6 separate regions of the Homo sapiens genome follow, and regions 2, 3, 4, 5 and 6 are each reported to be linked to region 1. Evidence: microRNA targets listed by miRTarBase, many of them from high-throughput screens and not tested one by one. Region 1 holds a microRNA gene; each other region holds the end of a gene's coding sequence.
What was found. The annotated mature microRNA hsa-miR-2116-3p reads CCUCCCAUGCCAAGAACUCCC and lies in region 1 at 1,403-1,423, shown strand. An mRNA with a match to its seed (bases 2 to 7 or 8) in the 3' UTR can be bound and repressed. Matches are read on the target gene's strand: a 7mer-m8 pairs with bases 2 to 8, a 7mer-A1 pairs with bases 2 to 7 and ends in A, and an 8mer does both.

Region 1 (4,104 bases):
TATGTGAAGTGACTCCATATGAGTTTGCCAGTTTTTAAGTCAAAAAGAGTCAAATGTCATCATTTTTTACATGTCATCCTAATAATCATGAACAATGCCCTCTTTCACTGTCATGGGGCCCGGTCATGTGATGAATGGAATGGCCTCTCAACAGTAGTGAAGATTGACTGTCCAAGGCAGCTTCCCCCTGTCCTGGTAACAGCAGTCCACTGTGTGAATTGTTGTCATCACATTGACCATGTCTGTCCACCTTTTTTTGAGACGGAGTCTTGCTCTGTCACCCAGGCTGGAGTGCAATGGCGCAATCTCGGCTCACTGCAACCTCCACCTCCCAGGTTAAAGCGATTCTCCTGCCTCAGCCTCCCAAGTAGCTGGGATTGCAGGCGCCCACCACCACACCCAGCTAATTTTTGTATTTTCAGTAGAGACGGGGTTTCACCATGTTGGTCAGGCTGGTCTCGAACTCCTGACCTCAGGTGATTCACCCGCCTCGGCCTCCGAAAGTACTGGGATTACAGGTGTGAGCCACCATGCCTGGCCTGTCCAGCTTCTTAAAGCTCCTCTCCTTACAGGGTGTAAAGCGAGACCTGCTCCTTACCCCAAAGTGCTTGTACTTAATCGGACGAGAAAAAGTCAAACAGGGCCCAGACAAGGGCCTGGTGAAAGAAGTCCTGAAGCGGAAAATCGAGATAGAACGGATCTTGTCTGTGTCCCTCAGGTGAGTAGTGGAGGTGCAGAGGCAGGACTGCCCCTTCTCGCCTCAGCATCACGGTCCGCTGTTCCAAACAGCCAGGAGGAAGGCCGGGCTGGGCTTCCCAGCTGTCAAAATCATGATCAAGAGAATGGAATTTCCCTTTGTCCCAAAGGGAAGACTCCCTAGTCTCAGCAAGTCTTGATATGTCAGGAAGAAGGTACCAAGAAAAGGTTGCCTCCGGACAGCTCCTCTAATCAAGGGGGACCCAGATCTCTTGTAACCGAAACGTGTTAGAAATGAACCCGGTATATGGAACACCTCAGAGAATAATTTCTCTTGTTGCAGTAGAGCCAAGGATTCAGAGCCCTGTCCCCCAGTCCACCTCACCCAGGTTGGAGGCCTCACCCATTTCCCTGAGCAGAGGGTCCTGAAAGGGAAGTTTCTTTGGGACTTCCTTAGGGAGTGCAAGTTGGTCTCCATTCTCTGTAGCCCTGGAGTCATCGTGAGATGCTCTCTTCGCTCCAATTCTCAGGCAGTGGGGAGTGGTGTTTGCTTCCACAAGGCCTCAGGAAGGGCCCTTGCTCCTCCCGGCAGCACCTTGGCTTCCTCTCGGCAGAAGGGCTCCTCTGCCGGCCGTCAGCATCTCCTCCGTCAGTGGGACCTAGGCTAGGGGTTCTTAGCATAGGAGGTCTTCCCATGCTAAGAAGTCCTCCCATGCCAAGAACTCCCAGACTAGGAGTCCTCCCATGCTAAGTCCTCCCGAAGTCCTCCCATGGTAAGAACTCCTAGACTAAGTTCCGCTGACACAGGAAATCCTCGCAATCCATGAAGACTAAGAATGGAAGAAAGGCCTCCTTGAGCCCCATAGCTTCCTCCAAGAATCGTGTCCCTGGGCCTCTGAGGCTAACACTACTTTAATCAGGAAAAGCTTTGGGCCTTTGCATTAAAGATGTTCTGCTCTCACATGAACATGGAATTGGGACGCCTGTCAAACTCTTACTCCACACAGAAGGCAAAACTGGTGCGCTCAGGAAAAAGCAGGGGTTTTATGTGCTCAGGCGTCTGATGTACCAAGCTGGAAATCCTAGTTCCAGTCTGATAATCCAAAACAGATTTCTAGTTGCATCCATTCTTGCCTGTGTCTCTGTGGTTTCTGATTCTATCTGTTCCTAATTTCCCTGGATAAAGGACCAGGCAGTGCAGTGCAGTGAAGTATTTAAAACGTGCCAACTCAGGATGTGGTAAAGTTGCTAAGCAGATGAGTCCGCAGTGTCCATTTTGCAGCCCCACCTCAGGTAGGTTTCAAGGCTATTGTTTTTTTTGTTTTTTTTTTAAAGCTCTAGGCGCTGACTGATTTTCTGAAGGCCTTCCTAAACATTCAGCTCACTGGCTGGGTCCCAACCTGAGCGGGGCAGTGCCTGCTGGCCACACTCTTCCTGGCTAGCTGGGCCCTGAGGCTGCCGTGGAAACCCAACAGGAAGCTCCTGCTTTGTTTGTCATTGCATGGGGCCCTGCCATGCCTGGACTAAGCCAGGTTGGCCACAGCGTGCTTGGCAGGCACAGCAGGTGAAAGTCAGGGAACCACAGCTCTAGGGTGTGTGTAGTCGCTGTGCCGAGAGTGACTTGTTCTTTCTGTTATTGCCCAGGTATGTCTTCAGTCCCTCAGACCCCTGGTGGAGTGCTCATGACTGGGACCATAAATTATCCTAATTGAGCTACATTTGTGTGGTTGTTTTGTTTTGTTTTGTTTTGTTTTGTTTTAGACAGAGTCTCGCTCTGTCACCCAGGCTGGAGTGCAGTGGCGTGATCTCAGCTCACTGCAACTTCTGCCTCCCTGGTCCAAGTGGTTCTCCTGCCTCAGGCTCCCGAGTAGCTGGGATTACAGGCCTGAGCCACCACCCCTGGCTAATGTTTGTATTTTTAGTGAGAGACAAGGTTTCACCACGTTGGCCAGGCTCGTCTTGAACTCCCGACTTCAAGTGATCCACTCATCTCAGCCTCCCAAAGTGCTGGGATTAGAGGCGTGAGCCACCGTGCCTGGCCTTGAGCTACACTTGTATCAAGCACTTTGACACTTACTATCTTATTGATAAGTCCTTGAGGGGGTTGTCAAGCAGGGACTGTAGGGACTGTTCACACTCAAATTTCTTCCTTTTATTGTTTTTTGTTTGTTTATTGTCTTCTTTTACAGCCTCTGGGGATATAATCTGTCATGGGAGCACCAGCTTCTTTTTCTTCTTCCTGTTCAGTATTCATTATCTGGAAGGTTCCTTTCTTGCGGTCTTTCCTTTTTAAAGGCTGTAGTAAAATGAGGTACTTAGCCTAAAAGTTTTTCTGACTCTAAGGAAAAAAAAAGAAAGTGTGAGTCATTTGAACTTGTGATGTCTGTGTATTGCAGTCACTGAACCTCACACTTGCCAAGATGAATAATAGTGTCCCCTCATTTCTTTATACTTGAGTTAGGCCAGTAATCAGAACCAAGTTAGGAAAGCAACCAGAGGGTGATGTGTGTGCAGAATCGAACCCAGAGTGGAAATTAATTCTGGTACCAGACTACTGAACATGCGTGTGTGTTCTCAAAATACTTCAGTACTGGCATAGAGAAAGATTTTAACAGTTGGCTTGTACTTCAGGAAAAAAGCTGCAACATCTGTATGTGTTTTTAAGAATTTCTGAGATTGACCAGTTGACTATTGGCTGGAATGATATCAACATATGGCCTCCTAGTTACGATTTATCAAAGTATCCCATAAGCTTGATCTTAGCCCATCTCTAGCTCTTACAATTAATGTCAGTGCACAGTGGGCCTACAGCTCCCTATTCAAACCAACCAACCATTCAGTAACAGTTACAAGACAACATGTGAGCATGACTAAATATTTGGTATGAAGAATTTATTGTTTATTTCTGTAGGTATGATAATGTTTTGTGGTTAATTTTAATATAAAGAGACTTTATCTTTTAATAATATGTACTGAAACATTTGAGCATGAAATAAAGGCTGAGCGCAGTGACCCACGCCTGTAATCCCAGCACTTTGGGAGACCAAGGCAGGAGGCTCGCTTGACCCCAGGAGGTTTGGGACCCACCTGGGCAACATAGTAAGAACCCATCTCTACAAAAAATGTGAAAATTAGCCAGGAGTGGTGGTACGTGCCCGTGGTCCCAGCTACTCAGGAAGCTGAGGTGGGAGGATTGCTTGAGCCCAATAGGTCAAGGCTGCAATGAGTCATGATCATACCACTGCACTCCAGCCTGGTAGTTATTTTAAAGTGGAAGCAGGGAGAGTGAGGTTGTAGATAATTGTGATTATCCGTGAATTGGTGCTTGAAATCTGACATGTGGTGGTTCATTCTATACTACTTTTTATTTTTTTGAGACGGGGTCTCACTTTGCCACCCAGGCTGGAG
Region 2 (4,104 bases), not on the chromosome of region 1:
TGTTCTACTGAGGAAGGGCTCCAAAGAGCCAGTGGGTTTTCCGCAGGCAGACGGGGTTCTCCCTGTCCGGCTCACCAGTGCAGGAAGCCAGGGAAGAAATTACTGTGGGAATTCTGTTATTTCACAAGCACTTCATACCTGCATCCCTGCACTTGGCACCGCAGGCCTCAGTGACCAGCTGCCGAAACGGTAATTTCAGCATTTTGGTCAGTAAGCAAACTGGAGAAGCAGCTGGGGTGGGGCGCAGTTCAGCCCGCTACCCTGACACTCTAGGCCCTGGCATTTGCTTTAGCTGCTTTTGTAGAATTGACATGAGGGAGACTGTCCCTCTAGAGGAAAACGCTCAGCTATTACCAATGAGGAAAAGGCAATACTGATGTGCTGGGGTTTTTTGTTTTTTTTAATCTCAAACTTAGGAAAAGATGCAAGTGCGTTACAAAGAATTTTGTTTCCTGAACCGTGTGAGTCAGTTGCTGAGAGTCTGCTACCCGCCCACGATACAGACACTGAACAGGAAGTCAGCATGGACGCAGTACTCCTAGCAGGTCCTCAGGCCCAGTCATGTCCTCTAGGAAAAGGATCCAGTTCAGGAGCAGGAGCTGCACTTGGTTGTCATCTCTTTGGTCTCCTTCTGATTGGAAGCTTTTTGACTTCCAAGACGTGGATACTTTTGAAGTGTTCTGAATTTGTAGAATGTTCCTCAGTTTGTGTTTGCCTGGTGTTTCCTCAGCACTGGATTCAGGCTAAGCATCTTTGGCAGGAGTGTGACAGCACTGACACTCTTGGGTGGCACGTACTTTCAAAGTGCCCATTACTGATGATGTGCATTTGACCACTTGGTGAAGACGGTGTCTGCTGGGCATCTCCAGTGTGACTTTCCCTTTCTAACTGAACAGTGTTTTGTGGCAGACTCTCAAAATCTGTAAATACCCCTTCCTCAGCAAACTTTCAGATCAATTCATATGTATTGGGGTGTGTGTGTGTGTGTGTGTGTGTGTGTGTGTGTGTGTGTGTGTGTGTGTGTAGTTCCCTATTTAAAGGGCTATACTGTATTCCATTAATAGTAACTGTTTGTTAGGATGCTCAGATTGTCCCGAGTTTGGCCAGTGGAAGCCCCTTCACATAGGCTTCGGTGTCCTTAGGACATGTCCTTATCATTCCTTGAGCACTCCCTTGCTTTCTGGCAAAACAGACTTTGGGTTCATCCTGTCCTTTCCCTGCCTAGCCCCGGAATCAGCCCTCACTCCTTTTAGTGGAGAATAATACTTTTAGCAGCAAAGGTCTGGGTCTAGGGGTGCTCACTGCAGTTGGGGTGTCACTGTTCCCAGGTGCTCCCAGTGGACAGAGGTCGTTCTTGTTTTCTTCTTTCTGTGTCTAACTCCTCAGAGAAACCTGGCTCCCACTGTCCTGTTTACCTGCCTGACTGCCTCCATACATAAGCAGCCTCCCTCCCCTGCCACCACCCCGTCCCTGCAGATGCCTTCCTCACCCACTTGGGCTCTCATACTGCACATCAGGCTGCCCACACTGACTCCCCCTATCGGACCACCCCAGCCCTGCACATACACCCCACACGGATGCCAGCCTCACCCTGCCCATGCTGAGTCCCCGTGCTGTGGTGTTCCTCCACATGGACAGCTCCACACCCTACTTGGGCTGACACCCGCCCTCCCCACAAGCACCCCGTCCTTACCCTGCACTGGGCCACCCCCACGTGTGGATGTCCTCTGTGGTAGGCAGAGTGGCGCCCCTAAAGATGGCCACACCCTAAGCCCTGGAACGTGTGAATGTTACATGGCAAAAGGAACTTTGCAGATAAAAATTAAGAAGATTGTAAACTTTAAAACAGGGAAATTATCCTGGATCATCTGCATGGGTCCAATGCAATCACAAGGATCCATAAGAATAGAAAAGGCAGGCAGAAAGAAGGGTCGGTGGGAGAGAGGGACTGGGCCTGCTGCTGCTGGTGGAAAATGAAGTGCCACGAGTCAGGAGGGAGGGTGGCCTTCACAGACTGGCAAAGGCCTCAGCTGGCAGCCAGCAAGGAAATGCTGACCTCAGCTGGCCCACAACTCCAAGAAATTAAATTCTGCCAACAATAATCCTCAGCAAGGAAACGGATTCTCCCTTAGAGACGCCAGAGGGAACGGTCCTGCCAACAGCAAGACTTTAGCCTGGAGACACTCGTGTTGGACTTCTGACCTACAGAACTGAGATAAAATTGTGGTTTTTATTTATTTATTTATTTATTTTTGAGACGGAGTCTTGCTCTGTCGCCCAGGCTGGAGTGCAGTGACGGGATCTTGGCTCACTGCAACCTCCGCCTCCTGGGTTCAAGCGATTGTCCTGCCTCAGCCTCCTGAGTAGCTGGGACTACAGGCACCTGCCACCACGCACAGCTAATTTTTGTATTTTTAGTAAAGATGGGGTTTCACCATGTTGGCCAGGCTGGCCTCAAACTTCTGACCTTGTGATCCGCCTGCCTCAGCTTCCCAAAGTGCTGGGATTACAGGCGTGAGCCACCGTGCCTGGCCAAATTGTGCTGTTTTTAAACAAAGCCTGTGGTAACTTGTTATAGTATTAACAGAAAACTAATACACACTCCTCATTCAGTGTGGGCCCTACAACCCACACCAGGCCACCTGTCAAGGGAACGCTTACCTTGATCTGTCCCACTTAATAGCTTTAGGCCTGATTTGTTCAGAAAGAGAAATGACGGAAATAGACGGAGAAAGGGAAGGGGAAGTTCTGACATGTTTCTGAACACCTTGAAAGGGATGAGATTTCTGAGCCCAAGGGCTCAGAAGGGCTTTCAAGATATCTCTAGGAATCCTCAGTCTCTTGGGAACACCAGTAGTTATTTTCTGCCCTCAGAGTGCTAAGAACATGCATGGTCCACAAAACTTCCAAAAAGGAAAGCTGTACTTCCTTTGGAAGCAATAGCCACATTAACGCAGCCTTTATTATTTAAACAACGAATATCCCTGGCTCTGTGGTAGTGACCATTTCCCACTGTAATTACCGTTGAACGCCAGCTCTGGGGGTGTGATGTGGCGAACGCATAGTGAGGTCCACACTCCTTGGGACCGCAGCCTGAGTTCCTGTCCAAAGGCTTCCCTGTAGCTGGGTCCACCCACAGGCTGCTGTTGAGCGGTAGGTGTGTGTGGAGACTGCAGAAACAGGAAGTGTTTGTGAAAGAGCACGCTTTATTGGGAAGCAGACTGCTGCACAGTGACCAACAGGCCACCCAATGGGCACTTACACATCGTACTCCAAAAGACACAGGATGTTTTGCTAATAAAAATCAGTGGGAACAGGGATTCCTCTGGGCAACTCCCCCAACCTCATCCCTTTCAGGGATTGAGAAATCTCCCAACCATTTTCCTGATGACAGCCATGGTTCATTAGAGATACAGCCCCTCAGGGGTGCCTTCCTGTTTCTTATAAAGAACATTTTCTTTAGATTTTTTGAAGTCTTCATTTGTTACTTTCATTCTACGTTCTCTTAAGGCCATCAGACCAGCTTCTGTACAGATTGCCTGTAAGAAAGAAGAGTGTGTTCAGAAAGTGACATACTCATTTTTATTCTAACAAGGAATTCCAAAAAACCTATTCTGAGGCCAGGCGCGGTGGCTCACACCTGTAATCCCAGCACTCTGGGAGGCCGAGGCAGGTGGATCGCCTAAGGTCAGGAGTTCAAGACCAGCCTGGCCAACACGGTGAAACCCCATCTCTACTAAAAATACAAAAAGTTAGCCAGGGACGGTGGCAGGCACCTGTAATCCTAGCTACTCGGGAGGCTGAGGCAGGAGAATTGCTTGAACCCGGGAGGCAGAGGTTACAGTGAGCCGAGATCGCGCCACTGCACTCTAGCCTGAGCAACGAGCGAAACTCTACCTCAAAAAAAAAAAAAAAAAAATCTGTTCTGAAATAAAGCATGAGACACCTAGACTAAACACAAATTGCTTATTTGGGAAAGATTTGATTTTTAAAAAAAATGTTTTAAGCATCCTATTTTCTGAAAGGATGTGAAGTGGCTTAAACTGGGAGTTACTGTAACTAAGACTGACCCAAGGGTCAGGGCTGTGGGTTCTAGTTTTGGCT
Region 3 (4,000 bases), not on the chromosome of region 1:
GTAAACAGCCATAGCCCTGAGTCCCTTAAGTGTCTCCTACTGCCCCGCCACCCGGGTCCCTGCTCTGAGGCCTCTGGTCCAGCACTCAGGCCATCATCTATTCTGATTGGTCTGCCCGAGTCTTCGCAGTTGATATTTTGGATATCATCCCCGAGGGAGAGGACTGCTGAGCACCAACAATGACCCATTCTGGGGGCTTCGTAGCAGTAGGGGTGCGGGTGGGTAGCATGGCTCTCTCCTACCCAGCCTGGCGCTGCACAGCTCTGCTAGCTGCACCCTCCCAGAGCAGCTGGTCCCCATTTCCACGGTGCCCTGGCCTGTGTTTACAAGGCAGCTTTCTTTCCTGCAGTACCAACTGTGTGCAGAGCAGCCGGAAACTCCCCTAACACTGCTGGGCAGGCGGGGGCTGGCACTTGGGGAGGTTGAGCCAGGAAAGGATTAGTAACCAGGCAGCGGGTGGCTCAGAGCTGTGTGCCTGGGTGAGCGGGTGGTGTAAGTGGAAGGCGCTTGGCAACATGGCCTGCCACTCCCCGCTGAGCAGCAAGCAAGAGGTTGGGGCGGGGCGACTGCCCCGGTAGCGGGTGGGGTGGGTGGGTGGGGGTGGAAGAGATGTGAGCAGCGCCTGTACCCCTGGGACAGTCACAGTGACATCTGTTTGTTACCCTGAAGTGGAGACACAGAGGTCTGGTAGCACCTGTGCTCTGGGAAGCAGGTTTGCAGGGGGCCATGGCCACTGAGGACCTCGGCCCTGGAGGGTGGAGGGGCAGACATGCTGGCTAGTGGTCACCAGCTCAGCGGCTTAGGACAGGAAGCCATCTGACGGGAAGCACCGACTGCCAGCCCCATGTGGGGCCCCAGAACAGTTGGGGGGTGGGCTGGGGAGACAGAACTAATCTAAAGAGCATCAGGGCAGCTCCCACCAGAAGGTGACCTTGTGTGCCGAGACAGCTGCCACCCGCGCAGGGCACCTTTGGGGCACAAAGTGAAGGCCAGTGGGCCACTGCCGGCCAGTTTGTGGGAAACCTGCCAATGCTTTCCCTGTGGCTTGCCCTGCTGTCCCCATGGGGGGCCCACACTTCTCTCTAATCCCTTCCTTCCCTTTGCAGCTCAGGCTCCCGGAACAGGTGAGTGACAGACGATGGGCTGTGCTGTGCTGGATGTTCACTCTGACCGTGGCGCTTCTAGCTGGCTGCCTGTGGCCCGAATCTTTCTCACTGGCCATCTCCTCGGATCTGGGAAAGGTCCCGAGAGGTAGTCTCCTTGGCTCCCCTTCCTCAGCCAGACCCGATATCCATGGCACATCCATCTCCCTGCCTCCTCCTGCCACGTGGACAATTCTGATTTTAATGTGAGCAAGAGCTCATTTGCACAGAGAAAACCAGAGTTGGCTGTGCCTGGGGGTACATGAGCACTCTAAGACCCTCACGTTCCCACTATGACAGCTCACCTGACACTCAGACCCTCTTCCGAGTGCACTCTCGTCAATTCTCTGCTACTTATGTACCTGCAGGGGCTCACCCTGATTCCCAGGGCATCGAAGGCTGAGTTCTGAGCCACTTCCAACTCACTTCCTTTGTTGCCTGTGCTTTTGACAAGCCAGGGCCAGAAAGGCCACGTGGAGCTGTCGTTCTCCATGTGTTTTCTCTGCCCTGGGCTTTCTGGAAGCCTGAGGGAGGAAGGGCTGCTTAGAAGAGCAACCCTTAGCACCTGGGTCACGTGCATCCCAAGGGTACCAAGGTCTCCCTTGGAACTTACAGAGAACAGGGGTCATATTATAACTAAAGCGTTTATTTCCATTCAATTCACTAACTGATTGCTCTGCTTGGGTGTCTGTGTTGGTTCACAGGAGGGAGTCTGTGGCCAGATCCCTAGACTGAGGGCGTCCCCATGGCCAAGACCTTTAGGCCCAGCAAAGGTCTGGTGGGGGGAAGGAGGTGGGAGAGAAATCACACACTTTCTCTCCAGGGAAGGGAAGAGGCATGCTTGCCCGTGTCTCTGAGCGCACCCTCTGGAGGGCAGGGTATCACAGTGAATGATCCGGGTCCTGGCCTCCGATGCAGCCTGGTTTAGGCTCCCAGAGGGAAAACTGGGTTTTGACCATCTGAGGGCACTCAGGAGCCTCAAAGGGGCCTATTTGCCTGGGAAGTACTAGATAGATTGGGGCAGGAGAGTGGGAAGTGGGCAAGGACTTCCAGCCCTGCAGCCTCAGAGCCCACTTCCTCCTCAATCTGTCCCTTTCATCAACAGTCCTGGAGTGGGAAGCTCCTCCACCTTGGCGCCTCCCCCTCCACACCCAAATCTCACTCCAGTCTCTGAATGGCCCAGATGGCCCCATGGCAGTGGGCTTTGGTGAGGCCTGGTGGCAGGTGGGAGGAGGGAAGAGTGTCAATGAAAACCGTATAAAAAAATCCAGAAATGTGCATATAAAATCTCGCCCTTGGTGTATTGCCTAAGTCAGTAAGCAGAAAGCACCTTCTTCCTGGAGAAGGATCAAGTCCTCAAAAGGTAGGAAATGTCAAAGTGTCACTTCATTGTCATTAAAAAAAACCAAAAAACAAAAAACAACCCAACAAACAAACCCCCTAAACCAAAACCACCCTGTGACCAAAATACCCCCGAGTCCAGGAATTGCTGTAAACAAACCCAGATGCAGGATCAACCCTTCTCAGCGGCAGTCGGAGCTGACGGCAGTCACTGCAGTATCAGTCCTCGAGGCAGGGGCTGGCGGGAGTGGGCACCAGGAGGGCCAGGCTGCCAGGCTGTGCGCGTGATATGTACCTGGAGCTGCAGACCTGGGGGTTGCCCATCCTCAGGAAGGCTGACCTTTCTGGGGTCCCCGCGTTCTCCCTGACCCAGGAGGACAAAAGCCCCTTTCAGCCCTGTGAGCCAACAGGAGAAACAGTGTCTTTCATTGGAGTTTCTAAAATACTCTCCAAAGACAGAAAAATTCTTCTGTTTGCCCAGTGGTGGCAGGAATAGATTTTCCCAGAGGGGTTCTCAGGGTGGCTGTCTGTCCATCTGTCCCGTCCTCCAGGCGCTTGGTTGTTGAGTGAGGCCTAGAGGAGCAGCAGGGACAGGAGCCAAGGGCGGCCCCTGTCTCTCCCCTTCACATTTGTTTTTCTGAAAGTGTTTCTTGGCTCTGGCCAGGTCACCTTCCCAGAGGGAGTTGGAGAGAAACTGCTTTTGTCTCCGATTGGACACATCGCATGAATCTCCCAAGCCCTTTTTTATCCCCCGCAAGAACAGTCATTGCTTTCCTTATGAGAATCCTCTTTAAAAAATATTCCTTGTATTTCCCGCCCCCTCCCAGGATCTGTTTTCTTTTTTCCCATTCCCTTTTTTTTTCCGTCGTTTGAGTTGCATGTTTTCTTGGTGACGTCTCGTGGCTGGCACCGCTTGGTTCTTCCCGTGGCCCGTGGCCTCCTGGCGAGTGGCTGGCCCTGCAGTGGATAGAGCACCAGGAGGGCCGGCACGTGGGGCAGAGGGGGCGGGGCTTGGAGGAAGAGGTGAGCCGAGGCAGGTGAATGTCAAACCTCCACAGACTGAATCTGGTTCATCTGCGCCCGCATCACCTGGATACTGTTCAGGATTTTTTTCTGGTGGCCAGCCAAAGTGACCCCAACCCGGAGAATGTCCCTTTGGGAGAGAAGCACGTGTGTTAGGGAAATATGCGGGTGAAGGGGTCCTGTGCCTGGTAGAGAGCTGCCTGGGCTTCCCCGGGAGGAAGATGGCAAAGCAAGGAGTACTGGGGAGTGGGGAGTGGGGAGTGGGCAGGCAGCCACAGCTGGAGGGAGCGACTATGGTGTGAGGTGGAAGAGCACTTGAGTCGGAATCAGGGTCCCTAGGGGGCCTTCTCTCCCCTGCTATTGGGAGGGGGAAGCCAGCTTACATTTTCTTTCTTTTTCGAGACAGAGTCTCGCTCTGTCACCCAGGCTGGTGTGCAGTGGCGTGATCTCAGCTCACTGCAACCTCTACCTCCTTGGTTCAAGCAATTCCCCTG
Region 4 (4,104 bases), not on the chromosome of region 1:
GGCATGCGGATCACCTGAAGTCAGGAGTTCGAGAGCAGCATGGCCAACATGGCATAACCCCGTCTCTACTAAAAATACAAAAATTAGCTGGGCGTAGTGTCGCGCGCCTGTAATCCCAGCTACTCGGGTGGCTGGTGCAGAAGAATCGCTTGAACCCAGGAGGCAGAGGTTGCAGTGAGCCAAGATGGCGCCACTGCACTCCAGCCTGGGCGACAGAGCGAAGCTCCGTCTCAAAATATAATAAATAAATAAACAAACAAACTAAATAGGGCCTATATGCAAATCCAATTTAATTTCAAACTCTGTGTTCTTTCCACTATATCCCACCTCTTCCCCTATACCCTGATGGGCATCAACTGCTTCCGATTAGGTAGCCTGTCTTACGAGTAAAATTGCTATTTAGTGACTGTGAATTTGAAAGTAGTTTTTTTCTGACCAAACACACTGTTCATTCAGAGGTCTTTCAACAGTAAGTTTTTAACTGCGTTTATGGTACACCCCCGCTCCTCCCACCCAACTCAGCTCTGAACTGAGCTCAGAGGCGAAAAGCAGCCCTGATCCCCAGTAACTCACATTTCAGAGGAATCTCTCTTTCATGCACAACGGTGAAGGGCAGCTTCTCCTGGTCGTCCAGGGGCACTGACTCCCGCGTAAACACGACAGTGACAGGCACCATGAGGCGGAGCTACAGGAAGGAGCATCAGGGCCGTCACTGAGTCTCCACCTTGCCGGGGGGGCTGTCCCCCGACCCTCCCGCACAGCAGTCTCACCTGAAGGGCATTCAGGCCACTGATCTGGGAGTAAGGCAACGAGGCCCGGTAGGTCTCCGTGGTCTTCCACCAGAGCGGTAGCCCCAGCACGATGGCCACCGCAGCGAAGAAGAGGGCGGCGCGCTTGCCCCGGGCCACCTCTGAGGGCATGGGGAACCGACTGAGGCGCTGGAAACGGGCTAGGGTACCGGCCCCATCCCCGACGCGGAGAAGCCCCAACCACCGGCCTCCAGGGGCCCGCGTTCATTGGGATCTCCGTGCGAAGGGACCCGGCCCAAGCCTGAAGGGAATCTCGTCTGAAGAGACCCCCGAGCCCCCCGTCCGCGGGACCTCTCGCACACCACAATCCCCACCCCTGCTATTCCTCCCTTGCCATCAGCTAGCTGCAGGCCCCCCACCCGAAGCCCACCGCACCTAGGTGTGTAGCCGCAGCCCCGGCGGCCGCCATGCTAGCTTCCGGCTGCTCCGGCCACCGTGGGGGCAGAGCTTCGTGAGCCTCACCCAATCGGAATCTCTGCAACGAGGGGGCAGGACCGCGGCGGTGATCGGGGCCAATCGCGAGCGCTACTCCAGACCCGCAGACGGGAGCAAGCGGGCGAGGGGTGGGAGGGCTCCGCTGGGAGCTTCGCTGGGGATCTGAAAGGAAGTCACCCGGGCGCGGAGGGACAGCCTAGGGGCCGTGCGGGTTTCGGCGCTGCTGGAACGAAGTTCCCCGCTTCCCTGTAGAACACACTTCTAGCCCCGCAATCAAGAGCGCAACCTCTGCAGTCCTTAAATACTAGCTGGGCAACTACAGGCAGCTCCGAGGCTCATCTGAAAATGGAGATATTTACATAAATGAGGCCGTTCTTGTAAGGAGCCTGGCACACGGAAAGCCCTCAACGTCAACTGTCACGGTCTTATTATCCTTATCGTAGAACTCCTCTTAGGGTGCCCTCTCCTCAAAGCCTCAAACACGGAGGTAGCAAGCTAGTATGTTTTAGCACAATTGGCTCTCTCGCTATTTTAAAATACGTTTTAATTCATTTCCAACTTGGAAAACTCAGAATACTTCACTTAAAAATCTTGAAAAGTCATGAGCCCAGACTCTAGATGCTGATCACTGCGGTTCAAATCCTGGCTTCATCACTTATTAGGTGAGTGATCGTGAGAAGATCGTTCTGTGCCTATCTGTGCCTGTTTTCTCTATTAAAATAGGGATGATAGTAATAGTACCTACTTTATAGAGTTGTATGAAATGTGTCAGTACATATAAAGTGATTAGAACAGGGTTGGTGCTATGTGCAAGCTATTTTTGTTATTATAAAGTCAGGCCACACAGGGTGGAGCATTTGTAGCCTCCCCAGTTGACACAGAACACACGCAGCTTGTTATCTCTTCTTTTTATCTGCTTAGACCCAGGTTCTCAGCCTACCTCACAACCCAGCCCAGTGGTTAAAGTTCAGCATCAGGCCTCACCAGAGCTGTCCTTACCCAGACCCTCCAATTGGCTCCCTTTGTGCCCACTTCTACCCCAAATGAAAATGGGCCATAGCCCTTGGCAACCTCCTAGATGCCCTGCTCAGCCCTGGCAGCCCGCAGAGCCTTGGTTTTCCTCTTTGGGCGGGAGTCCAGGTGCTCGCTTGCCCTTACTGGTGTGGCTCACCCTAGTGGAAGGTACCAGGTCCCAGCTGGGCTTAACACTGCGAGATGGGAGAGACTCCCACCCACTCTTATCCCAGCCTGTCTTGCTGCCTCCCTGCTTTGAGCCTTGCACAAATCTGCCTTCAGGAGTTGCCAGTTTGGCCTCACTCCATACTTCTGTAGCTGCAGCCCAGTGCCACTGATGTGGCAGTCCCTAGAAGACTTGCAGTCTTCCTCATTGCCCCACTCCAGACTTGGACATCAAGAGAGCAAGAGCCTGAGCTGGGGATGGTGACTGCATGTGCCCTTCCTCCATAACTTGAAGCCCAGTAAGACTCAAATCCCACCCTCTCCACCTCCAGAGTCAGAGGGCCCAGAGATAGAATTAGCAGAGATCAGAAACTGGGAGGTGGGAATTTGATGTGTAAAACAGACAGGCAAAGTAGAATGTTTTGCTACCATTTATTTGCTGTATGGTATGTACTCAAGGCATGAGTCAGGGCTTCTGTACTACCCTCTGATCCCAGGAGACAGGGCAGGCAAGAAGGAGAGCCCAGGGAGAAGCTACCTCATCATGGGAAAATTGTGGGAGCTGGAAGAGGTAGGGGGAGACCCAGCCATCCTGTTCTGACTTCTAGCAATTTCTTCTGCCCTCAGTCATGAGGGGCTCCCTATCCTCCCATCCTATGGTCCCAGGTGCAGCAATGAGAGAGGGGAAGGGAAGAGAGAAAGGAAGACAAGTTGGTGCCAGGTGAAGGCATCTCTGCTCTGCATAGCTATTTGGCCCTGGCCATGACTACAAGCAAAAGTGGGTGCAGATGGCTGGGCCAAGGGCTGTGGTATGGAGTGGATACTCAGTAGGCATGGTTGGCAATGTAGAGTGACTGTGCTGCTGCTCCACCATCTTCTCCACTGCCTTCATACTTGCCCTGGGCTGCAAGCCCATTCACCTGCAAAAGGGAGCGTGGAGTAAGCAGGCTGAGCCAGCCCACAGGTGCCAAGCCCTGCCCAGGCTATAGCCTCTGGGTGCTGCCCCCACCCACCACCACCTGTAGCTCCCAACCTCAGCCCGCTTGATGAACTCCTCAGTGGCAGCCCCAGCATTGTCCCGTTGCCCTCGCCAGGCATTGAGTGCAGAGGCTTGCAGGGCACGCCCATAGGAGAAGGTAAGCGCCCAGGGTCGGGGAAGGGGGCAGCGGTTGATGGCATTGAGGTTGAATGATGCCTCTTCTTCGCTCTGACCCCCAGACAGGAAGGTCACTCCTAGTGTGGAGGAGAGAAGACAAACTGACTGGTCACTCCCAATTTTTCCAGGATAGGGAACCCCTGAAGGCCACAAGAAGGACCTGAAGATGGGCCTTAGGGATAGGAGCAGGTTAGGGAGCTGGGTAGTACCTGGGACAGCTGGGGGCACAGTGCGACGCAGGGCAGTGACAGTTGCCATGGCAATCTCCTCTGGGGTATACTTGATGGGACAGGCATGGCCCGGGGTCACCATGTTGGGCTTGAGCAGGGTCCCCTCCAGGTATACATGATGGTCACTCAGGGCCTTGTACACAGCAGCCAAGACCTGGGTGGGGATTAGAGGAGGTTTACTAAGGGTCTGGGCCCCCACTGGTTACTGCTCGATGCTCCCTATGTAGGGGTAGATGGGCACAGACTGTGAGGGCTCAGTACAGGCTCAGATCACAGGCCTGTGCCGGGATGAAGT
Region 5 (4,104 bases), not on the chromosome of region 1:
CCTACGGCCCTGGCATACTTCTTCTGAAGTCACAGGGGAATTCACATCACTCTGTGTGACCTCTGTCCTACCCCTTTTATGTGAGGGTGGTGAAAAGCAAGTTGAAATGCAAAGGGTAGGTAGTCTGGGAGACTGACAGAAAATGCTGTGCACATGTGGTTTTTATAATGAGATATACAGCTTGTACCCGAAGCCAAGAACATTTCACATGCTAAACCTTTCCAAAAGCAAAACAGCACAACTCCCAGGATAGTTTGGTAGGAAACGCCCATGTAGGGAAAGCCAGAAATGTTTGGGAACTGAGCCTGGGATCTGGCATCCAGGTTTTTCTCTAATGACCTTTGCTCCTGTCATTCTGCCTCCCATAGGAGCATGTGCCCACCTGGCTTCAGAACACTCATGTCTACAGCTGGCCCAAGAATAAAAAAAACATCCTGCTGCGGCTGCTGAGAGAGGAAGAGTATGTGGCTCCTCCACGGGGGCCTCTGCCCACCCTTCAGGTGGTTCCCTTGTGACACCGTTCATCCCCAGATCACTGAGGCCAGGCCATGTTTGGGGCCTTGTTCTGACAGCATTCTGGCTGAGGCTGGTCGGTAGCACTCCTGGCTGGTTTTTTTCTGTTCCTCCCCGAGAGGCCCTCTGGCCCCCAGGAAACCTGTTGTGCAGAGCTCTTCCCCGGAGACCTCCACACACCCTGGCTTTGAAGTGGAGTCTGTGACTGCTCTGCATTCTCTGCTTTTAAAAAAACCATTGCAGGTGCCAGTGTCCCATATGTTCCTCCTGACAGTTTGATGTGTCCATTCTGGGCCTCTCAGTGCTTAGCAAGTAGATAATGTAAGGGATGTGGCAGCAAATGGAAATGACTACAAACACTCTCCTATCAATCACTTCAGGCTACTTTTATGAGTTAGCCAGATGCTTGTGTATCCTCAGACCAAACTGATTCATGTACAAATAATAAAATGTTTACTCTTTTGTAAGATTATGTTTTACTTATCTCAAAGGAGATACATATAATTTATAATGATATGGGCAGTTGCTTCCAGGGACATCAACAAAGCTGCTTAGATATAATATTAGATAAATATAACAGACCACTCTGTATTAATGGATTAAAGCCAGCTAGTTAAACAACCCTTTTTAACCATAATCATGGAAGCTTTATTCTTGCAATAAAGATTTTTAGGCTGGGCGCAGTGACTCACACCTGTAATCCCAGCACTTTGGGAAGCTAAGGCAGGCAGATCATTTGAGGTCAGGAGTTTGAGACCAGCCTGGCCAACATGGTGAAACCCCATCTCTGCTAAAATTACAAAAAAGTTAGCCGGGCATGGTGGTGTGCACCTGTAATCCCAGCTACTCGGGAGGCTGAGGCAGGAGAATCACTTGAACCCGGGAGGCAGAGGTTGCAGTGAGCCGAGATCATGTCACTGCACTCTAGCTTGGGAGACAGAGCGAGACTCCGTCTCAAAAAACAAACAAACAAATAAAAACACCCATTTTTAACAAAACAACTTTATATAGCATACAGCCATGATTCTAAATAGTATGATTATGGTTCTCAGGATCTGACTACATAGGTAAAAATATTTGCATATGTGTATGAAGTGTTGGGGGATGTAGGCTAGAATTGTAGTCTGTGTTCTAATTTTGGTTCTACCACCAATTAGCTGTATGACCTTTAGCAAGTCCTTTAACTTTTCTTAGATTCCAGGGACTCATTTATAAAATGACATGGACAAAAGCATCTCTAATCACTCTAAAAGATTTGAAGTCTAGGACCTAAATTCTAAATACTCTTTTGAGGAGTGACTGAGTTTTCATTTTCATAATTATGTCTCTCAGAGGACAAATTTACATTTTCTTAACAGAGACATTTTCTTCTTCTTTTTTTTTGTTTGAGACAGAGTCTCGCTCTGTCGTCCAGGCTGGAGTGCAGTGCTGCAATCTTGGCTCACTGCAACCTGCGCCTCCTGGGTTCAAGTGATTCTTCTGCCTCAACCTCCCAAGTAGCTAGACCTATAGGCGCCTGCCACCATGCCCAGCTAATTTTTGTATTTTTAGTAGAGACAGGGTTTCATATTGGCCAGACTGGTCTCGAACTCCTGACCTTGTGATCCGCCCACCTCGGCCTCCCAAAGTGCTGGGATTACAGGTGTGAGCCACCACACCCAGCCAACATTTTCCTCTTTTAAAAAATATCTTCTCACGCCTGTAATCCCAGCACTTTGGGAGGCTGAGGCAGGCGGATCATGAGGTCAGGAGATCAAGACCATCCTGGCTAACACGGTGAAACTCCATCTCTACTAAAAATACAAAAAAAATAGCCGGGCGTGGTGGCAGGCGCCTGTAGTCCCAGCTACTGGGGAGGCTGAGGCAGGAAAATGGTGTCAACCCGGGAGGCGGAGCTTGCAGTGAGCCGAGATTGCGCCACTGCACTCCAGCCTGGGCAATAGAGTGAGACTCCGTCTCAAAAAAAAAAAAAAAAAAAAAAACTTCAACAATACCCTCAGGTTGATAATTTTGGATATCTATCTGTATCTATATATCTTGTTTACCTGGTCTCCAGAAAAAGAACACATACACATATCCATATATAAAATATGTATACATGTATCAAATCTACGTAAACTATAAAGGTGGGATGGCTTTAATTATGGCCCAAGCTACTAAGACAATGAAGACTTTTTGGGGCTGCAAGCTACTGCTTCCCTTCTTTATCTACTAGCCTCTTAAACAAGGCTCACTTGTGCTACAAGACAGTCCACCGTTTTGTTTTTTTTTTCTTTTTTTTGAGACAGGGTCTCACTCTTTCCCAGGCTGCAGTACAGTGACACAGTCTCAGCTCACTGCAGCTTTGACCTTGCCGGGCTCAGGTGACCCTTACACTTCAGCCTCCCAAGTAGCAGGGACTATAGGTGTGCACCAACATGCTTGGTTAATTTTTGTATTTTTTGTAGAGACAGGGTTTTGCCATGTTGTCCAGGCTAGTCTCGAATTCCTGGGCTCAAGTGATTCACCTGCCTTGGCCTCCCAAAGTGCTAGGATTACAGATGGGAGCCACCACGCCCAGCCCAGTCCAGCTCTTATATGTAGCACAGGGAAAGGACAAATACTTGTCAACTATAAATAAGAAACATTGCTAATGCATTGCAAAGAACACTAGTTTCATTTACTTTATAACTTAGATGTCTACTGGGTGAGACGAATGTCTTTGTTCTTTAAAAAATAGGAAAAGAGAAGAAAAACTAGCATAACATAAGTACTCATTTGTAAGACTTTCTGACATGTAACATTAGTTCCGTAGTTTTGAGACCTGGTAGAACTGACTTTCATATTTGGATAACCTGGAAAACACCCAAACACAAACTTCAAGTCTTCTTTCTCTTTTTTCATTATCTTTTTTAGTCTGAGGTGACACCATCATTAAGGATTCGACACCCGTTTGTAAATAAAATGACATCAGCAATTACTCTGAAATGTTTCTAGTTTGCAAAGACTTAGCAATGTGATGTTATTAACCCTTCCTCCCTTCAGAGACCTGTCCTAAGCTCTGAACCACTCATTCCTTCCACTCTTCTTACCCCAGGTGGTTGATGAGCAGTGGTCCCTGGTGTTCCACAAAGAGTCATTAAAGTGTTACAGCTGGTAGCACTGGTAGCAAAAAAACAAACCAAAAAGTACACACAGACACACACACACACACGCACACATACACACACACACGCACTTGGCCAAGTGACAAAAGCTTGGCCCCTGAAATTTCTATGAGATCCGATGACCACCAACATCAAAGCATTTTTTTTTTTTTTTTTTTGAGACGTAGTCTCGCTCTGTCACCCAGGCTAGAGTGCAGTGGTGCAATCACAGCTCACTGCAACCTCCACCTCCCGGGTTCAAGCGATTCTCCTGCCTCAGCCTCTCGAGTAGCTGTGACTACAGGCACCTGCCACCATGCCCGGCTAATTTTTTGTATTTTTAGTAGAGACGGGGTTTCACCGTGTTAGCCAGGATGGTCTTGATCTCCTGACCTCGTGATCCATCCGCCTCGGCCTCCCAAATTGCTGGGATTACAGGCATGAGCCACCACGCCCGGCCCATCAA
Region 6 (4,104 bases), not on the chromosome of region 1:
TATTTGAAAAAGAAAGTTGCCTTGCATAGTTGCTTTCAATCTCATCTCCTCGAAATGCTTTATTAATCACAAATATAAAAGAATAGTAGGATGTTTGATGAAATCTGCATATAAAGGAGGTAGACCATTAGGCTCTATGTCCCAATTAGAAAATTTTATAACCTAATTATTGATGTGTCTTAATTTTGACTCAACTTATTTCTTATACCTACAGGAGCTACTGCATATTTAATAACTGACCCCTAACACAGAATGATAATTGAAAAAAATAGAATGCTTCATTGCTTATAAACTGTGAACACTTGAAATAAAACTTTGATTCATTCTCTCTCTCTCTCCTCTCTGTCTCCCTCAGGTCGAGTTTTAGCTCAGGCAAGTGGCAATGGTGTTATCCATTTGCTAGATCTTAAATCTGGGGAGATTCACAAATTGATGGGCCACGAAAACGAGGCACACACGGTTGTGTTTTCTCACGACGGGGAGATTCTCTTTTCTGGAGGCTCTGACGGCACAGTTCGAACGTGGTCTTGACCGTCAGCACATCCCGCTGCAGAGGGCATTCCCTTTAAGGCTTGAAAATGCCTCCTGTAGTCCCAAACCAGCAAAGAACTGGTTAAATGTGCCAGCAGGTAACATTTACAGTCTGCTTTAAAACATGCTTTGGACATATATTTTAGTGCTCATACTGTTACTAATAAAAAAATAACTTTATGCTCACCCATTTGTGTCAGGGTCTTTTTTCTCTCTCATTTTGATAAGAATTTAGAGACACGGCATCTTTGCTAGGGGTTTTGAAAGAAACAGCTTTACAATGACGCCTAATGACAGACTAGATGAATTACAGGAGATTGATTTTTAATGTTAGAGAACAAACTGCAGGAAAACCTGGCTACTTTAAAAAAAAAAAAAAAAAATCAGATCCAAGCTGCAGGAAGACCTGAAGTTTAATCATGCAGCACCAGGGAAGTCTTTCTGCCACCAAAGGGTCAAATAGAATCGACAAGCATACGTTTTCACAGATTGTTTGACAATGATTATGCTTTATCTATTAATAATAATTGGGGACTGCAGATGGCTTAAATCTAAATGCAAGCCTCTTCTGGAACTTTCATCTCTGCAGCCCATCCAAGAACGCGTTAGGTATACAATTTTATACAAAAAAAATTAATTGCAATTTCAATGCAAATAAATATCTCGCACGTAGAATGTCTTTACCCCTCCTAATGCGCGCATCCGCTGTATAAAGTGCGACTGCTTGGAGAGCACTCTAGCCTCGTCTAAAGCAGCTCTGGGATTTCGACAGAGCTGGGCTCAGAAGCCAGTTGTTGGCGCTGTCCGTGGTGCTGAGGAATTCCCGGCTGCCGGCAGAATGAGCTCCAAATCAGCAATCTGCAAACTGCTCTTACTGATGCAGAAACCCAGCTAAAGTTGCTCCTTTCCTTCACATCCACAGTTAGTATTTTCCGGTGTGTAAGAGGGGATTCAAGCAACACACTGTGGACGATGGTGATGGTATTGCCAGCGGAGTGGGCTTTAAGCTACAGCATGCTGTTGCTGTTTGTGATCCTCAGAGCCTAGCCAAATCACCTCTACTGCCGTAGCAAACACTGTGTAAGTGAACTCATGTGTGGAGGAGGCGTAATCAGCCGGGAAATTTCATAGAAGGATCTAAGAAAATGCTAAAAATAAGTTCAACATGATTCTGCTACTGGGGTCTGGATTTCTACAGGACCAGCTTTGCTTCTTGCTTTGAATTCTGAAGACAGGTCCAAAGCAAATTTCTTATATGTGTCTGCTGTGTTTCTTTCTGGAAGGGCGGGAGACTGCTTCTTTACTGTGTTTTGAAATGGGAGGTAGAGAGAATGGATTGCCTTTAATTCATGCCTAAAAAATGTATTCTTTGGGTAATTAAAGAGGAACTGCTTTCTTAAAACATACCTGACCTTTTAGTTCATTTTGGGCTGTGACCCCTACCACCACCATTAACCTCCAGAGTGATTAGGTAAGTGTATCTTATGACATGAATTATGTTTGTTTTCTCAAAGAAATAGATGCAGTCATTTTAAATCATCTGTAGCAATATGGGGAGGGGGGGAAAATTAAGCTGGGAAGTGATCCTCAGTTTAGCAGTGTTTGCTTTCTTTTTAAAAATCTTCAGATAAACATTACATTTGATTTATCCCATGTTTCTTCTCTTAAATAGTATCTTAAATTGTACTAGGGCAGCTCAATTATGAAGGCTTTTTTTTAAAAAAAAAATAGCCTAAGAACTTTGTTATATTGAAAATAAAATCTTGTTTTTTACCATGCAGATTTTAAGATATATTTCATATAATAAAAACATATTTAATGTTTATATAAAGTAGATATTACATTCCTATTTTTACCTCTAAGTTTACATTTACCATAACCTAACACATTAATGCCTACCTGTGGCTTACAAAGAGATCATTTTCTGCCTATGTCCCTTTGAAGCAGAATCATATGTGTATTTTATATGGCTTATCTTGCATGCATTGACAGATATTGCTGGAATATTATAAGGAAGCACAGTAGCTTTCTTTTCCTCCAAGATAAACTTTCTAAATATGTGATGTATAAATGCTTGCTTTAATTAGTAAATTATATTTATGCTTTTTCAGAAGCTTCTGTTATGTTTGTTATCTCTGTAGTAATTTGAGAGAAAAAAATGCTTTGTCAAAGGGAGCTTCCAGATTCTCAAGTAGAATTATAGGTTTGCATTTTCTTGTTCTGTCATGACTTATTATTTTTGACATATTTTATAAGAAATCATCGGCTTTATTACCTACCCAAAGGGAATTCTAATATCAGAGGATATCAGAGTAATTCTGATATCAGCTTTCTCCAGAAAGAGGGCATACTACCTTCCATTTTACTATTACTAGAACTTGTATATCTACCTTAAAATGCAAATATAATAGTTTATGAAGTTTCCTAATGTCATCTTTATCTTGTTATCGTCTGTATATGTTAGACTGAAAAGAGATGGTTTATCATTGCTCTTAATATAATCTGAAAATAAACCAATGTATAACATTTATAACTGACCTGAAAATGTCCTGTATACCATCTTAGTGTTATTGGCATGAAGCCAATAGCATTTAAATAAAAAAATGAGCTATTTGACAATACTTTTTCTTATTTATTACTCCCTAAAGTCACAGTCTCCCCAGAGCCTCTGTGTGATTTAGTTATTCTAAATATTTAAATAAGAGCCCACTCCCAACACTTCACATCAAGCACCAATACTAAGTGGAGTTTACAAGAGTCAGTGTCACAAAATTAATAAGGCATATTTTCTATGAATGGTTAACACTTAATTACAGTTTTAAGCAACTTCCATAAAGAATTTTATGCTGGCATCTTTGTGCAGATTTTGTACATGTAAATATTTTTGACATTTCAAGAGTTATGTTTTCAAGATCTCATAAATTGTATTTATATTATATTGCAAATTTTAATTTAAATAATATTACATATATACTAGATTCAAGTTACTGTGAAGTAAATTTATAGATAGATCTTTCCTGCCCACTAGGAGCTTCCTTCCTATGTAAAATAATGTGGACAATAATACAAATAAATTTGTTTTTAACAAACTCTTTTAAGCACATGGAATTCTCTTGTATTATTTATTATTTCAAATTTTCTTTCTCTTAATCACTATGGAATAGTTATGTTGTTTTTGTTATCAACTTTATTTCAAAAATCCAGACTCACATTCACTTAAACAGGTAACTGATGTTGACGCCATTGTTGTTCTTTAATTATGGGCATAAATAAGTAGGAAATCCTTTATAGTAGCTCCTTCCTAAATATAATTTATATTCAACTGTTGGTTTATTCCCTTTCCTTTAGAATTAGATTTTTTTCTCACTAATCTCTTGAGTTGACACAGATAATTATAACATATGTTCCATCACTGACTAGTCCAGTTTAAAGAATAATAGAAAATGTGAGTTCAAATATTCTTGAGCTATTTGTAAGTTACTCCTTGGATCACATTTTGGGGCTCAGTAAAACCATTTCTTTGCAATTTAGATAAAGCCAGACCTATGAAATTCAGAAGGAAAATTCAAGCTG

Region 2: the mRNA of PSMC1 is a reported target of hsa-miR-2116-3p. Seed matches in the 3' UTR shown: 7mer-A1 at 3,369-3,375.
Region 3: miRTarBase lists EPHB2 as a target of hsa-miR-2116-3p. Seed matches in the 3' UTR shown: 7mer-A1 at 3,212-3,218.
Region 4: miRTarBase lists ALDOC as a target of hsa-miR-2116-3p. Seed matches in the 3' UTR shown: 7mer-m8 at 3,070-3,076.
Region 5: the mRNA of TRAF3IP2 is a reported target of hsa-miR-2116-3p. Seed matches in the 3' UTR shown: 7mer-A1 at 1,444-1,450 and 7mer-m8 at 3,054-3,060.
Region 6: the mRNA of SPAG16 is a reported target of hsa-miR-2116-3p. The part of its 3' UTR that is shown has no 7-base or 8-base seed match.

Annotation. Positions count from the first base shown.
Region 1 is chr15:59,168,511-59,172,614 of GRCh38, reverse strand. It overlaps MIR2116 (microRNA 2116), which reads left to right and starts at 1,353; the gene lies at 1,353-1,432. It overlaps MYO1E (myosin IE), which reads left to right. Exons shown (of 28, transcript NM_004998.4): 22 at 573-718.
Region 2 is chr14:90,271,708-90,275,811 of GRCh38, reverse strand. It overlaps PSMC1 (proteasome 26S subunit, ATPase 1), which reads right to left. Exons shown (of 11, transcript NM_002802.3): 11 at 383-3,539. The coding sequence ends at 3,405. NRDE2 (NRDE-2, necessary for RNA interference, domain containing) reads left to right here. Exons shown (of 14, transcript NM_017970.4): 14 at 1-4,104. Among named protein-coding and RNA genes, the nearest start is that of PSMC1, 17 kb to the right of the region's middle.
Region 3 is chr1:22,913,098-22,917,097 of GRCh38, reverse strand. It overlaps EPHB2 (EPH receptor B2), which reads right to left. Exons shown (of 16, transcript NM_017449.5): 16 at 1-3,636. The coding sequence ends at 3,528. Among named protein-coding and RNA genes, the nearest start is that of MIR4253, 52 kb to the right of the region's middle.
Region 4 is chr17:28,570,279-28,574,382 of GRCh38, forward strand. It overlaps ALDOC (aldolase, fructose-bisphosphate C), which reads right to left. Exons shown (of 9, transcript NM_005165.3): 7 at 3,789-3,963; 8 at 3,457-3,656; 9 at 2,842-3,343. The coding sequence ends at 3,248. PIGS (phosphatidylinositol glycan anchor biosynthesis class S) reads right to left here and starts at 1,246. Exons shown (of 12, transcript NM_033198.4): 1 at 1,185-1,246; 2 at 771-910; 3 at 574-685. The coding sequence starts at 1,218. RefSeq lists a silencer at 590-786 and enhancers at 767-886, 1,577-1,626.
Region 5 is chr6:111,555,816-111,559,919 of GRCh38, reverse strand. It overlaps TRAF3IP2 (TRAF3 interacting protein 2), which reads left to right. Exons shown (of 9, transcript NM_147686.4): 9 at 369-4,104. The coding sequence ends at 515. It also overlaps TRAF3IP2-AS1. Among named protein-coding and RNA genes, the nearest start is that of TRAF3IP2, 48 kb to the left of the region's middle. RefSeq lists an enhancer at 57-556.
Region 6 is chr2:214,409,785-214,413,888 of GRCh38, forward strand. SPAG16 (sperm associated antigen 16) reads left to right here. Exons shown (of 16, transcript NM_024532.5): 16 at 356-717. The coding sequence ends at 531. It overlaps VWC2L (von Willebrand factor C domain containing 2 like), which reads left to right and starts at 1,270. Exons shown (of 4, transcript NM_001080500.4): 1 at 1,270-2,002.